2 separate regions of the Homo sapiens genome follow, and region 1 is linked to region 2. Evidence: fine-mapped expression QTL. Tissue or cell type: whole blood. Region 2 holds a variant in brackets; the other region holds the start of a gene. All regions are shown on one strand. Distances are from middle to middle.

Region 1 (8,000 bases), 51 kb before region 2:
AGGCACGCGCATGCGTGCACATGTGTGTGTGTGTGTGTGTGTGTTGTGCTGAGTGAGTGGGACTAGCCTTGCTTTCTATTTAGGAGGACCTCCCAATTTGTCCCTTGTGGATAGAGATAGGGATGCTTTTTATTAGCATGCAGTTTATCAGCCAGATTTCTGTCCTGGATAAAAGTAAGGGAGGAACCCTAAAGCTCAGGTCAACCTTTGTAGAGTCAGTTAGCTCTGGGGACTGATTCTCATGCTGTCAGAGCATCCTCATTCCCATCACAGAATGCCCCTCACCAGCCTGCACGTGGCTAGAATGAGTGCTAATGAGCATGCCTTTTTGAATTTGGGTCTCCAGAAGTTTCATTTCAGCTACAACTCATGGCCTTGGGCAAGAATCCATCAGCAGCTCTGGGACTGTCATGTGATTTATGGCTGCTGGTTGCCCAATCTTTCCTGATGTCAATAGTGGTGTGGCCTGGACAAGGGCAGGCTTGCCAAGTGACATTGGGAAAATAGAACATAGCTCCCCAGGTACCTGGTACATGGCTCCCATCTTTGTCCCTTCCTTCCTTCCTTCCTTCCTTCCTTCCTTCCTTCCTTCCTCTCTCTTTCTTTCTTTGTCTCTCTCTGTCTTTCTTCTTCTTCTTCCTCTTCTTCTTTCTTCCCTCCTTCTCCTTCTTCTCCTTCCTCTTTTTCTTCTTCTTCCTTTCTCCTTATTCTTGTAGAGATAGGGTCTTACTATGTTTCCCAGGTTGGTCTTGAACTCCTCTCTCAAGCAATCTTCCCACCTTGGCTTGCCAAAGTGCTAGGATTACCGAGCGGGAAGGGTTGCCACAGTGCCCAGCCTCCCCTGGCTATTTCTATCCCTTCAGCCCTACCATGCTAAGCCTGGGTCAATGAGCTGACAAGGCAATTTGCCTTAGATAAGGCTACTGATTAGAATATCTTCCTGATGTATAAAAGCAAGAGAAATGGCTGCCAGCCACCCTGTGCTGGAAGGCAGAAGCCTCAAGTTCTGGTTCTGACTTTGCCATTGAGTTGCTGTGTGACCTTAGGCAATCCCTCCTCATCTCTGGGCCTTAGTTTCTTTTGGGAATAAATAACGGAATTGAGTTGAGCCTATGTATTAGTCTACTTAGGCTGCCAGAAGAAAATATCACAGACTGGGTGGCTTAAACAACAGAAATCAATTTAAGATCGTGAGACAGCATTAATCTCACGGGGTTATTTTGAGAACTGAGATCCTGCATACAAAACTCTCGGCATAGTGTTTGCCACACAGTAAGCTCTCAGTAAATATTTGTCAATGAATGTATGAAGGAATAAAAGTGGAAAATGCAAATAAGTGAAACACTGACAAGATTACAGCCAGGAAATGGCTGTTGTAATTCTAATTAGATATATAGACTTCCAGTATTTTCCTATGCAAATAAAGACATATGTTACTACCAAAACGGGACCATATTATACCTATCTAGATTTTCAAAAATATTTCATTATTTTATTGAAATATAAGTCACATGTCATAAAGTTTACCTTTTTAAAGTGTACAATCTAGTGGTGTTTAGTATATTCCCAAAGTTGCACTAACATCATCACTATTTAATCCCAGGACATTTTTACCACCCCCAAGATAAAACTCATGCCCATTAGCAGTCACTCCTCATCCCCGTCTCTTTCCCCTTCCCCAGACCCTGTCAAACACTTTCTGTCTCCATGGATTTGACTATTTTGGAAATTACATATAAAAAGCATCATACGACATGTGGCCTTTTGTGGCTGGCTTCTTTCCTTTACCATGATGTTTTCCAGCTTCATCCACGTTGTAGCATGTTCTTCTTATGGCTGGATGATATGCCTCTGCACGCATACACCACACTTCATTTACACATTCATCAGGTCATGGACATGCGGGTTGTGCCCACTTTTTGACTAGGATGAATGACACTGCTCTTTGTGTACAAGCTTTTGTGTGGACATGCTTTCAGTTCTCTTCGGTAGACACCTAGGAGGGGAATTGCTGGGTCATATGGAAACTCTGTGTTGAACTTTTTGAGGAACTGCCTACACCGCACAACAGTTTATAACCTATTATTTTCTCCTTTCACAACGCATCCTGTCTTCATTGTTAATAAATAGCTGTGCACATCACTATTTTGAGTGAATACATCGTATTTCCTTAGCCAGCGGTACCACAGTGTGTTTAGTGAATTCCCTATTGTTGGACATTTAATAATCCCATGAAAGAGGCTTTGAGTGACTTCCTTGTGTCCCCAGCAGCTTGTAAATGACAGTTTTCCAGGTGTGCCCAGAGCACTCTGTATCCCCTTAATTTGGTGATTTCACATTGCCTTGACATCACCCCTACTGCTCCTCCACCCCATCTGTCTTGTCTACAATGGTGAGCCCCTTGAGAAGCTGAACCATGTCTTGAATTGGTCTTTGTATCCATTATACATGGCCAGGTGCCAAGCATTTTGGTAAATGTTCACAAAATGGATGGGTACTTGGATGGATGGATGATAACAGCCAGGGACTATGGGGGGACGGAGTTCATTTTTACATTCTGTCCAAAAATCCCTGCTTTGGAAAGTAGTGAGTTCTCTGACACCGATGGTGTGTGACAGGAGGCTGGACCAGTTGGCAGGATATTGTGAAGCTAATTCAGGCCTCAGAAAGGGGACTCGATGAAATTTAAGATCGCTTCCAAGCTTGAGAGCCTGGAAAGCTATGAAAACACAAGCCCTGGGAGCTGAGATATGTCCTAACTTACCCAGCTGAGCTGTGAGGTGTGAGTGGCTCTAACATTTTCCAGTTGTTTCTGAGGACCTCAGATCAAAGCTTCCCTTTGCCTAAAAGCATCTGCCTGCTGGTGTGGGCCCTTGGGGGCCGTCACAGTGCACTGAGGTTAGAGTCCTGCAAGGGTGAACCCTTATGTAACAAGTAGTTGGGCAAGTTTACAGCTCTCTGTAATCTGACAGTAGAGTCCAGACTGGTTTGATGAAAGAGGGTAAACTGTGGGTGGGCGTGGCCTGAGGCCCCACTAGAAGCCCAGGGAGATCTGAGGAAAGGGAGGGCTTTTCTGATCTCTCCCAATTAGAGGATTAGGCAATTGGCAGCGCAGGGCGGTAACTCTGGGCGGGGCTGGGCTCCAGGGCTGGACAGCACAGTCCCTCTGAACTGCACAGAGACCTCGCAGGCCCCGAGAACTGTCGCCCTTCCACGATGTGGCTCCGTGCCTTTATCCTGGCCACTCTCTCTGCTTCCGCGGCTTGGGGTGAGTCCTTCTGAAATCAAAATGCGGGGCACTTTTTGAAATCCTTGTTCTGGGCCGAGGTGGGCGCAGATGCGTAGAAAGGCAAAGACACAACAGGTCCGGCTCTGCGGCGGGGCACGACTTCCATATTAGGACTTGGACTTGGAGCAGCTGAGCCCGGCCAGCCTGGCCCGCGCGGAGACGCAGGGAGGGTGAACATCCTGAGATCGCCCTGTACTGCTCGCCCAAATGCAGGCCGACAGCCGGCCCACCTCAGGCCGCACACACGAGAAATTTAGGCAGCTCAGTTTGCTGTCCCTTAATTAGTCCCCTTACGGCTGGATCACGGAGAGCGGCTCAACATAATATTAAGAGCATCGACTCTGGAGCCAGAGTGCGTGGGTTCGAGTCCCCGCTGGGCGCTTCCTCGCTGTGTGTCCTTAGGCAAGGGACTGCGCTATTCCGTGCTTGGGTTACCCCCTCTCTGAAACAGAGGTGGCAGTGCTGCCTACCTCACTGGGCTTTGGTGAGGAGGAAATGGGTGGCTGTTTCTAAAGCACTCTTGGCAGCGCCTGGTATGTAGAAAGCACGAAAAAGGGATGGATAAATAAAGGCGCTGTTTAAAAACGTAGTGTATGAATAGAAAATTTGAGCTGTGGTCAGGCCACTATATCAGGACCTCTTGCCATTAAAAAGACAGTTTCTTACTCATGTTCTCAACAGGAGGGGGACACCAGTGCGCGGGGCACAAGGGGAAGCAGCAGAGCCTGGGGAGGGGACAGGGCGGATCTGAGGCCAAGGGGCTTTTACTGTGGCTTCCAAGGATAGAAGAGGAAAGGCAGGGCAGGCAGGCTGAGGACTGGCAAGTTGGGATACTTCAGGGGCTCTGGGGCACAGGGGCTGTTCCTAATTGTTTTGTACCTAGCCCTGGCATGATTAGGGCAGGTGGGTAGTGGCCAGGGCATGGCAACCCGATCAAAGAGGCAGTTGGGGTGTGGGCTCTGGGGTGGCTGGACCCTGGGAGGGAGTTTCTCCAAGGTCAACAAGGCCTCAGATGCCAGAGCATCAGAATACAGAAAGCAAAACACATGGTACATAGAGGGGTGCAGCGAGGGGCCTCGAAATACCCCCATGCCATTTTATAGACAGAGAAACTGAGACTCACACAGGGAAATGTACTTGCCCAGGGTCAACCCGAAAATCACGCCTAGGTCTGTCTCTGGGTCCTGAATCCTGACAGCCCAGCCCCGTCTGCATCCTGTCTTCCTTCTGGCAGCCTGACACTGCGAGAGCTCTGGAACTGTGGGGAAGGGCAGAGAAGAGAGGAAGCCTATTTGGAACTGAATGTTCCTTTACCTCTGGTTACTCCTGGCAATGCCATCCATTTCCTTCCTTAGGAAGACCATACAGGCTGCCTCCACTTCCTCAGTTTCCTCCTCTGTAAAATGGGCATGTTGATGCCTACCCAGCAAGGCTTATTTGAAGATTAATTTAAAAAACTGGAATGCATGCCTGGCACATAGTAGGTGCCCACCATGTTCGTGCTTCATATAACATCAGCAGCAACTGGTCTTGTTCTCACACTTGTTTCTGCCTCCCCCCATTCACCCACTTTTTCACCCTTGGCAATCTGGCTGCCATCCACCTCATCCTGTTGAAGGGAATCCCTGAGCTGAGCATGACCAGCCCAGTGGTTTCTTCTCTGACTTGACTCTCCTCCACCTCCCTGAAGTCCTCAGCACTCTTAGCTGGTTCCTCGCCCTCTTGCTCCCTGGGCTTCAAAGACATGGGAACGTTCTCTCTCCCCTATTCTGATGGATCTTTGGTCTTGGCCGTAGTGGTCCCTGTGTTTGACCTTTGTTTTTTTTTCTCTTCCCTCTCACACTGGCATCTTCAATGAAGCCATACACATCCACCGTATGTACCCTCACAGTCCAGGAGAAGATTCTGCCCTGCTCCCTCACCAGGCTTCCTTCCAGCTTTGAAGTGCGCTCATCCTGTGGCATCATCTTGCCTGGATATCCCACTCACATCTCCACCGAGCCTGTGTAAACAGGGATCCAGCATTACAAGCCAGCTCTTTGGTCTTCTTTCCCTTCCATTTCCCCCACCTCTGGTCAGGGACCAAGTCTTTTCTTTTCCTTTCTTTTCTTTCCCTCCCTCCCTCACTCCCACTTGCCTGCCTGCCTGCCTGCCTGCCTGCCTTCCTTCCTTCCTTCCTTCCTTCCTTCCTTCCTTCCTTCCTTCCTTCTTTCCTTCCTTCCTTCTTTCCTTCCTTCCTTCCATCCTTCCATCTTTCCTTTCCTTCTTTCCTTCTTCTCTCTCTCTGGAGGAGCCAGGATTACAGGCACATGCTACCACACCCAGCTAATTTTTCTATTTTCAGTAGAGAGGGGGTTTCACCATGTTGGCCAGGCTGGTCTTGAACTCCTGACCTCAAATGATCTGCCTGCCTTGGCCTCCCAAAGTGCTGGGATTACAGGTGATCCACTGTGCCTGGTCTCCAAGTCTTTCAAAATACCTTTTAGACATCATCATATTTCTACATATTTTTTCTTTTTTTATTTAAAATTTTAAAATAATTAAGATGGGGGGGAGGATTTCAGGTGAAGACCGGAAATCCCATACAGTGCTGAAAAGGTGGAAATCACCAAGAAAACAGGCCACATGTAATGCCACCACCCATTGCTATGTCGATAAACATGCTTCCAAGGAAGTTCATCTCAGTATTATTTGTAATTAGCAACAACAACAAAAGAAAAGAAGCTAAATATTGACATTGCAGGGTTGGCTATTAATAAGATGAGACATGGATGCTGTTGTGTAACTGGGCTTTCCATAATGGGTTTCCATTGTGATTGGATATTCCCCTTTAAGACCAAATCTGAATTGTTCTGTTCTGCTCTAGCCCCACACTTTGAGGGAGGTGTTGACGTCTTGTCTGTATCCAAAGCAGAGCAGCTGGGAGGACAAGAGGCTGGAAATCATTTCCTAGGAGGGAAGCTCAGAGAAACTGAGGTGACTGGAGCCAGATAGGACCTGAGGGGTGGGCAGCAAGATCAAGTGTCTGAAAGGCCACAGGCTGCAGATCAGATCAGGCCAGTATAGTCCCATGACAGGTAGAACCAGAACTGATGCGGAGGCTGTGGGAAATGAATTTCAGCTCAGTGAGGAAACATTGTCCGTGCTGCAAGAATGGAGCAGACCTGCCCAGGGCCACCAGAAGAATCTTCCTTGACCTGATCACATCCTTTATCTGGAACGGTTCCTGCTGCTTATTTGTCCATTAAAGAAAACTCAAGCGCTTAGCCTGGCATTCTAAGCCCTCCCTGACATGTGCGGTCTCATTCCAGGAATATTTTCCACTCCCCCCAGACTCCACCTGGTGCATGTGGGCCATGCCCCCTTCCCCAGGCAGGCTCTGCATTCTGCTGCTCTGAGCCTCAGCAAATTCCCTTCTCTCTGCTGTGTACCACTCTCTGCTTCTCATCTCCCCTCATTCAGTCCTCCCCTGCCGCAAGTCCCAGCTCCTCCATGATGCCCGCAATCAGAAGGCCTTGCCCCCTCTTCTAATTCCTAGACTGCCTTATGGGTACCTCTCCCAGGACATGGCCACTTCCTTCCCAGCTGTAGCCCCAGGTGTATATGTGACCCTTCCCTATAATGGTCAGTGCTTGTGAGAATATGGGACACCCCTTTTTCATCCTCTCATCCAGCATGCGGCTCAGTGCCAGGATTCTAATGGATAAATGTTTCCAGAGACTTCTAAGGGGGAAGCTAAATGTCTTGTTCTTTCCTAGTAGCTCTCCTTCTTGCATTTATTTTTAGCTGGATGTTTTTATGCCTCCAATTCTAGTTTGCCCATTAAACCAGCTCAATGGGTTAGGGAGGACATTGATCGTCATCCCTATTGTACATCAAGAGAAACTGAGGCCTAGAGGGTTTAGGTGACTTATTTAAGGTCACTCACTTAGAAAGCGGCAAACTCCACCTGGAATCTGGGTCCAGCCTTTTGCCTCTGATGCATCCTGATTTATTCTCCATGTCCAGCAGGGCATCCGTCCTCGCCACCTGTGGTGGACACCGTGCATGGCAAAGTGCTGGGGAAGTTCGTCAGCTTAGAAGGATTTGCACAGCCTGTGGCCATTTTCCTGGGAATCCCTTTTGCCAAGCCGCCTCTTGGACCCCTGAGGTTTACTCCACCGCAGCCTGCAGAACCATGGAGCTTTGTGAAGAATGCCACCTCGTACCCTCCTATGTAAGCTGCGGCATGTGTCCTTGGGGATGTTTACCTCAAAGTGATGCAGGAAGGAGTCAAGGCAGTCCCCTGACGGGCTGATCCTTTGCTCTGGACTCCTTAAGATCTTTGTAGATCCTTAAGAACATTCCAGAACTCTCACAGCATTCTGGAGTCCATTATTTAACACATGTTTATTGAGCACCTGCTGTGTGCCAGGCGTGTTCTGGGTTCTTGGGATCCATTAGTGAAAAAGCAAAGATCCCTAGGTTCCTGGAGCGTGCATTCTAGCAGGGGGAGACAGATAAGAACAATATGCAAATTACTCCGTGGATTATGTGATATGATAGAACAGGAAAAGTGCCTTGGAAACAAAGAAGCAGTTAAGCAGGTGAGGGAGATCAGAAGGAAGGATCCCATGAATTCTGCTGTCTTGAATTTTGACATAGTCGGGGAGAGGAGTGGGCCAGGAGGTGTGTGGGTGGCAAGTGTACTGAGGTGTCCACTCGGCAAGTG
Region 2 (8,353 bases):
AATGACCGCAGCATCCTTAACATGCCTGCCTGTGGAGGCTCAACTCTGCCAGGATAATTTACTCTTGCTCCAGCGAAAACCTAGAGAAAAGCAGATGTCCCCTGGACCCAAATAGAGCAGTTACTTTAGAAAGCCTGCAATAATAAACCCTTTCTCTGTCGTTTGGGATGTGAATCTATCACCCAACCCTGTTTCCTGGGGGACGTGAGACCCTTCTCTTTGCAGTGCAAACATTCAAGGAGCTCACTCTTGATCTTCCCAGTCCCTGTGGAAAGAATAGAGCCTGACTTCAGTGGATTCTTCCTGCAGTCTAACGCATGGCTTCCTGTCCTAAAGATAAGAGGAGTTTGTTTCTGCCCCAGGTGAGCCAGGATGAAGAGATCCAGGTGGTCTAGTCACATGGACCAAGCCTCTCCCCACAGACCACAGTGTGTTTCCCTTGGCGCCCCTGGCTTATGAAACATCACCAGGCTTTTGTTTTGGGGATGTGAGTCCAGTCCACGCCGGAATATTTCCCCTATTGCAATCATATTACTGAATAAACCTGTCCTACTGCTTTAACAAGGGTCAGTTTTGTTTATCTTCAACTGGAAGGAGAACGCTTCTTTACTTCTAGAACTCAATTACTTTTTCCATTTATCTGTTTCCAACTTTTATTTTAGGTTTGGGGGTAACTGTGCAGGTTTGATCATGGGTAATTTGGGTCTCTGGAGTTTGCTGTATAGATTATTTTGTTACCAGGTATTGAGCATAGCACCCGATTAGGTAGCTTTTCCATCCTCATCTTCCTCTGACCCTCCACTCTCTTAGTAGACCCTGATGTCTACTGTTCCCTAGAAGTCAATGGTAACTCAAGAAGAAGCCACTTTCTTTGGATATTTTCAATGAGGTGATGAAGAGCATGAGTGATTTTCAGGGGAACTACGCACACCCAGCCCGAGGCAGGAAGCCGGGAAGCCCCCGACTGCCTCTCCAGACTCCTCAACTCCTTCCCCCATGCAGGCCCCCTCAGTTTTCCCATCTGCACAGTTATTTTCTCTACTGGTCCTCCCAGCACAGACACTTCAGGATTCTTCAACAGGAAGATAATCAGAGAGTCTGGGGAGAGGGGATCCCAGGGCACTGATATCCCGGTGACAACTGTGCCCTCCTGGAGCAGATTTCCATGGAAATGGTAACTCCTGCTGAAGGGAACAGCTGCCCAGGACTCAGAGTGTGGCTCGGAGAGGGAAGCACTTCTGGGACTAGAGACAGGAGGGCTGATGGTGGTGGGTGAGTCCCTCCAAGAGGCTTGCACCTTCTCACCATTGGAAGCATCCAGCCAAACTCCTGCTTGTTAATTCCGACCATGTAGGGGACAGTGTGGAACTTCCTTTCAGCTTGAAGCTCTTCAGGTGTTTTCAGCAGCACCACCCCATCAATCACGGTGGCCAAATAGTGGTGACTCTGGGGGAGAGAGAAGTGCAGTGCCTGTGATTCCCTCCCTAGTCACACCCATGTCCCCAACTCTGCCTGTCTGAGGGTGAGACCAGTACCACAGACCGGCATGGCCATGGGCCACGGCTGCACATACTCAGGGTCCTAACTTAAGGGGGTAGGCCTCTGTGACTCAGGGGTAGAACTTCAGGCAGAGGCTGACACTGGTCAGATGATGAGGAGAGGAAGAAATCTTCACTCATATTGAAATACATGTATTATCTATGTAAAATTACATGTCTGTATATTTCAATTTGAAGTGCATGCATTTTCCTCTGTGTGTCCACAGTTGATTTTCGGTAGTCCTGGCAGTTGCTTCTGATAAAGCCCCCATGAGTACTGAATTAGAGAATACAGGGTCATCACTCAAGGGGGAAATACTGGGTTAGGTTTTTGCAAACCTCTGGCCACAACATTTTCATCAACCTTCTTTTATGTGTGGGTTTCTGTTGAAAGAGACTTCCACGGCTCCATCCCACACAATAGGTGTTACTTTAGCCCTTTCTATCACAGCCTCATGTATGAATCAGCCAATTTCCTTCTCCTTTTTCTGAATGTGCTATTATGTGGATTTTTCAACACCAAATGCACGGCCAGCAGCACTGCAGCTCCTGCCTCATCCAAGCTTGTCTCACACAGGCACCTTCCCCGTAAGGCACAGCACAGCCTGTTTAGCTCAGGAACGCCAGACAGCAGCGCTACTCTTGGGTTCGCTCTAAACAGTGACATCACTACAAAAAGCACAAAAATGCAGAACACACGGCACTAAATAGACTGCGAAGAGGACACTTGTAAACATCAGAGATGAAACAAGAAGACAGGGGTTGCCTCACCAGATCTCAGATGGAACATGCCCATCATGCAAATCCAGCTTCCCCTGCTCTGTGCCTGCCTGTGTGACCATGAAAGTGCCACCAGTATCGATTTGGGGTTTATAAGGACATTTTAGCAAGCAGGTGAATTTATAAACGCAAAATCCATGATTAATGAGGAAGAGATTATGCTATCTATCTGTATTTAAACAAGAGCTGTTATTGATCCATGGGTGGCTTTGAGGAAGTACTGAACCCTCATCACTCAAGGAGCCTAGACTAGGACGAGATTCCCTATTAGAGAGAAAATTATGAGTAAAAGAATCAGTGATTAACTCACAGTATATTGATCCATGTCTTAATTTTAGGTTTTACCTTTAATGAATAATTTTTATGTGGTCACAGATTAGAGAGAGTCTGACTCACGCGTTGCCATCAGGGCAGCTGGTTCTGGGTACAGTTATATTTCATATTTAGTCACAATGGTGTAGTTGCTAAGATAGAGCATGGACTTTGAAACCAGATTAACTGCATCTGAAGCCTGGCTCTGCTACTTACTGGCTAGGAGTTTCACCTGTTTGGGCCTCAGTTTTCTCATCTAAGAGGTGAGTTATTGTGAGGATTAAATAGCTGAACACATGTAAAATACTTAGCACAGCACCTGGTGTCTGGAAAGGCTGAATAACTGTTAGGTATTACTTGTTAGCAAGGTTGCTGTGGGTCCCTCTCATAGACACCAGTCCTCTGTGCCATCTTCCCAGTTTCACGCCCCATGGGCTGTGTTTCCCTCCTGGATATCAGATGGAACTGGAAAATTCCTAGCCTTTGAGACCCTATGGCTTCCGGGACCTTTGGTCTGCCTACAAAAGCCAATGAATGACAAGCTAGTTCGGACTGCCTTGGGGGAGATGTTCTGAAAAGTGGACCAGACCTAGCTGGACAAGATCAGATCCTAATCCAACATGGCTGACGCACAGAACAGGATTGGGGTGCAAGTCTGGGTGCCTTGAGAGGCTGTGCAGTTCAGGCAGGGCTGCCGTGAGGGGCCGGAAAGAGGAGCAGCCCCTCTGGAAGGAAGATGCAGGGCAGACTACGTGGAGGAGGTGCCGCCCGCCTGCGGTGGGCTCTGGGCAGTGAATGGTATTGACAGGTGAGGAAAGGAGTGAGAATTTCTAAACAGTGGGAACCGCATGAGCAAAAGGACATAGGTGTCACTGTGCAGGGTAAATTCCAGAAACAACCAAGAGTTCTGGGCTTGGAGAAATGCTGTGGGGCAGGGTCTAGAGGGAGGGACAGGTGCAGAGCCTACCTTCTGCACAGTCTGGCACACAGTGTGCACGCAGGTGTGTTTTGAAGGACTAACTCCATGGAGGGAAGGGGATTTGTCTCATAAGGAAGGTCAGGCTTTTAAGAAGTGGGAGTGACGTGCTCTAACTCTGTTAAGGAAGGACAGTCTGGCTGCACCATGAGACGTGGAAATGGGGAGGGGAGGTGAAGTAGAAGAGGATAAAAGTTGAGGCAAGAGACAGGAGAGCCCCAGTTGGGCAGCAGCAATGCAGGAAGACTGCCATCAGCAACAATGACAAGTGATTGCTGTTGTCCACTCAGAGTTTGCAAGTGGCTGCCCTGTGTGGGCATAACCTTGCTTGTGTCAGAAAACTCAGGGCGTCCTCCACTCCTCTCTCTTTCTCACCCGCTGCATCCTGTCCATCAGCAAATCCTGTCAGCTATTCCTTCAAAGATATCCAGACTCCAACTACTCCTCCCATCCCCACTGCCACAGCCCTGTCTAAGCAGCCAGGAGCCCTTGCCCTTGCCTGGATTA[C/T]GGCAATGCAGTGGCTGCCCAGCTGGTCAACTGCATCCACTCTGCCCCTTTCCTACAGTCTATTTGAACACCGGAGGCAGAGACCTTTGTGAGATCTAAGAACATGTGACTCCTCTGTTCAAAACCTCCAAAGGTTTCCCATCTTGCTCTGAATCCAAATCCAAGTACTTTAATTGATCTCTCTCCCACTGCCAATTACCTCTTTAGCCTCAAGCCAGTCTGTCCCCACACTCGGTCCTCTCCAGCCAGACTGGCCCCTTCTGTCAGGGTCTTTGCAGTGACTATTCCCTCTGCCTGGAATAGGCTTCTCCAGGTTTCCTGACAGCTGGCTTCCTGCCTCCTCCAGAGCTTGGCTCAAATGCCACCTTCTCATTGAACCATTCCCTGATCCTGCTACTGAAATTGAAACCACCCACAAACTCTATCCCCTAATGCTGCACACCATCAAATGGAATACATACTTGATTTGCTTTTTTATTGCACTGTCCTTGCACTGTAAAGGAAGGTCCCAAGAGGGCAGGGAGTCTTTCTTTTTTCACTGTTATATCCCCAGCTCCTAAACAAGTCCTGGCACATAGGAAGTGTTTATTATCTTTGCTGAATGAATCTCATGTACTCCGCCCATGACCATTTAGGAGAGTGCTGCGGCCTCCAGGGAGGCAGCAGAGAGGACAGGATTGTAAGATTCGTCAGAGGTGATGTCACCAGAAACTGTCAACCCATTGGGAGGTGGGGGTGGGGGTGAGGAGATCAGGAGGATACTGTTGGAGTTTCCTGTGTGCTGGGAGGAGGCGAGTGTCCTTGGACTGAGATTTAGGCTTCCTCCCTCCATGGCTAATCATCGCTATTATCTCTGCCTCCTGAGAGTGGAAGATTCTGGTTCAGCCTTCTTCCATAGTGCCATTTTGGGGAGTAGAAAATGTAAAAAAGCAGGGGAGTGGGCAGAGCCCAGGGCACACAGAGGTGATGCCTGGGAGCACTGGACTGGGAGTCAGGAAAATAGGTTCCAGGCCAGCCACTAGTCTTCCTGGTTGTGTTACCCAGGTGAGTCACTACCCCTCTCTGGGCCTCGGCAACAAACACACAGGAGTTACTATAACCACCCGAGAGGGGATTCTTTCACTCACAGTTCATTGGAACTTAAAGGTGCTAAGACTCAAAACCCGTAATCCAGAAACAAAAGGTCCTTACCTCTTTGAGGTCTCCCTGTAAGTCCAGAGATAAGAATTTCTGTGAAGACAAAAGCAGAGGATGTGGGTGAGAGGCTTCCCAGGAGAACACTGAGCTGGGTGAGTGGGGCAACAGGGGTGTCAGGTTCTCCCTCCTGGTGCCAAGCTGGCTGGGCTGAAAGGAAGTGGGCAGGACTCTGGCTCTGCTAGGCCTAAGCACAGGGTGAAGGCATAGCAGGGAGGGGTGGGCATCAGCATGGGGAAGACAGGCCGGGGACTCTGAGCCAGGGTCGATGGAGCTCTGGAGAGGACCCCCGCTGGTTGAGGCTGCCTGGCCCCCCATCCCTCTCCCCTTCCTCTTCACCTGGGAAGAACTCACCAATTCTCCTTCAGAGACCTCCTTCTTCTCCCATCACTCCATGAATTCATATATCTATATGTGACCTGGGGTGCTCCATCTCCCTGAACATGAATATTAGTTCAGGGATGGGCATACACCCATGTCAATCCAATAGTTTACCCCAAAACTTTTGCAGGAATTATTTAGAAACAGGGTTTTTAAGCAGATAGAACATAAGTCCAGAGTGCTGTTGTCTTTAACCTTCAGAGGAGACACATCTACCTAAGAGTGAAACCAACACAGAAATGTGCAAAGCTGAAGGATAGAGAATGGTAGATTCTCAATAATATCCTATGATCATCTGGATCCAGCCATGCCTGAAGCCATCAACTCCTGAGATTTTCAGTTTACATGAGGATGCTATTGCAACACATTTCTTTTTCTGTTCAAGGTACTTAAGGGAGTTTCCTCATCTCCTATCAGAAAGCCCTGACTCATGCAAGCTCACTGAGACTCACCCTACCCCATGCTTCTCTTTGGTGTGTGTTCACCAAGATTGCAGTGACTGTAGTGTTGCATTGTAGTTCCAAGATCTGACCTGTGCTCCGGACGTAACCAGTGCATGTCCCTCCATTAAGGATTGAAGTCCCACTAGCCAAGAGTGTGTGTGTGTGTCTCTTTGTGTGTGTGGGTGTCTGTGTGTGTCTGTGTGTGTGTGTGTGTGTGCCTGTATGTGTTTCTCTGTGTGTGTCTATGTGTGTTTGTCTGTGTGTCTGCATGTGTGCATACTGGAGGCAATGCGTAATCATGGAAGCACTTCCACAAGATCTCAGAAAAACTCAAAAGGATGTTCCAGGATCTTAGGGATAGGTTTTCCCAAAGACTCAACTCTCCCCTTTTAAGCTGGGTCCTCTGATGCCACATGCAGAATTGCTGGAATATTTGCCTCCTTCCTGGCATTAGAAAACAGGTGTGTTTTAATTCCTTGAACACTTTGGTCACTTAGAGACTGAACCAAGACCTAAGCCCCAAGACCACATTGGACTCAACCCATGGAAACACAAGCAGAGTCCAGTGGTAGAGGCCGGCCCTGGGACCCAGGAGTAGCCTCAGGTCCAAAGAGAGAGTCCAGGCTACTCCTGAGCTTGGAATTCACACTCTTCTCCCTCAAAGGGAATAGTTCCCAACGGCCCTGGGTGCTGTGTCATCTGGGTGTTTGTCCTGCTGGGCTTCCCTGTGATGAGAGACTGCCACAGCCATCCATCAATCCTAAAGGTCCCCAGGTCCTAATATGTGAGGATGGCAGGGAGCAGGGAAGGCAGAAGATACTCTAGACCCGCAGGTGTGGGCTCTGTGTCCCACAGTGTTGCCTCTGACTAATTAGAACTGTGACATGGGGCAATTACAAAATTTATCTGTCTTTGTTACCTCTGTTAAAATGGGCACAATGATCTGAAAGCTGAATTTCTCAGGAAAGATAAGGTGGAGTCAGGGTTAAGGGCATGAACTCCTGAATTCCACTGTCTGGTCTCAAATCTGGCTCCTCCGCCTTCTCTGTGAAGCATCCCTGATTACTACAATGAATGCTTCCCCTCTGTGCTGCCACCATACTCAACCTGCGAAGTATATGAATGTATTTCTCTTTGGATAGTTCCTTGAGAGCAGGGACTATGTCCACTTCATGTCTGTTTTGCTACCTCTAACACCCACCCCTACATATTTAGCATGGATGGATGGATGGATCAATGGAGGGATGGATGGAGTTGGTCAATACATGGAGTACAGTTGAATTGAATGGATACATGAATAGATGGGTGAAAACTAGCAGACAGGCGATAACTGGATTGTTGATTTTGGAGGAATGGGTGATGGAGTTGAGATATAAGGTGGCTGGATGATCCATGAATGGTGGATGGATTGAAAATAGATACATAAAAAGTTACGAACAGGTTGATATTAGATTGATAAAAATAGATAAGTGAAAGCGATGAATTAGTGAACATACAGATGGATAAGAAGATCATAGTAGATGGATTAATGATTGAGTGGACAAATGACTATCCTAGAACAATAAATGAGTCAGAGTCTCAGAAAATATATGTAACTGGACCACCACCAGGTCTAATACAGACAGTTTCTAAGTCAACCAAGATAAATTGTGACATCTTTCTGAAAATCTTTGAGCTTAATATCTCCATCCCCCAAATTCAGCATGATGGTGTCCCCTGGGAATATGTAATGTTTAGTTTCTCAAAAATACATCTGAAAACAAGAATGGCAAAATATTAAATTTTCATCAAATAGTAAATTTGGTCAATTCTTTATCATGTTATTTTTTGACTTTCTTTTTATACATTTGTGCCATTTTACGATTAAAAAGGACAAATTAGATTCCCCATTCAGATACTGAGACTCCCGAGACTTGAGAAATTGTCCCAGGTAACTGTCCCAGGGCAAGAGGACCGCTGAAATGAAGAAGTCTGGGACCAAGTTTACAGTGTTTGGGCTACGGGAACAGGCAACCTACCATTTTCAATGTCGTCTCCAAGAGCTCCTCTTCCGTCTTCTGTCGCAGGCAGTGAACCATCACAGCTGAGGTGGTGGTTTTACACCCAGCAGTGATAGCAATTTGCTGCAAAGATCACAGGCAACAGAGTTCAAGAGTGAAGTCCCTTCCCTCCATCAACATGGAAAGTGGCATTCTATCCCAAGCCCAACTTGTACCAGTGGC

The links. PIP is the estimated chance that this variant, and not a neighbour inherited with it, causes the effect.
Region 1: it holds the start of CES1, and the variant in region 2 is fine-mapped to the expression of CES1 in whole blood (GTEx, PIP above 0.99).

Annotation. Positions count from the first base shown.
Region 1 is chr16:55,828,272-55,836,271 of GRCh38, reverse strand. It overlaps CES1 (carboxylesterase 1), which reads left to right and starts at 3,176. Exons shown (of 14, transcript NM_001025195.2): 1 at 3,176-3,268; 2 at 7,298-7,505. The coding sequence starts at 3,217.
Region 2 is chr16:55,776,692-55,785,044 of GRCh38, reverse strand. No RefSeq gene overlaps it. Among named protein-coding and RNA genes, the nearest start is that of CES1, 52 kb to the left of the region's middle. RefSeq lists an enhancer at 4,703-5,902. The variant C/T (reference allele first, on the strand shown) is at 4,114.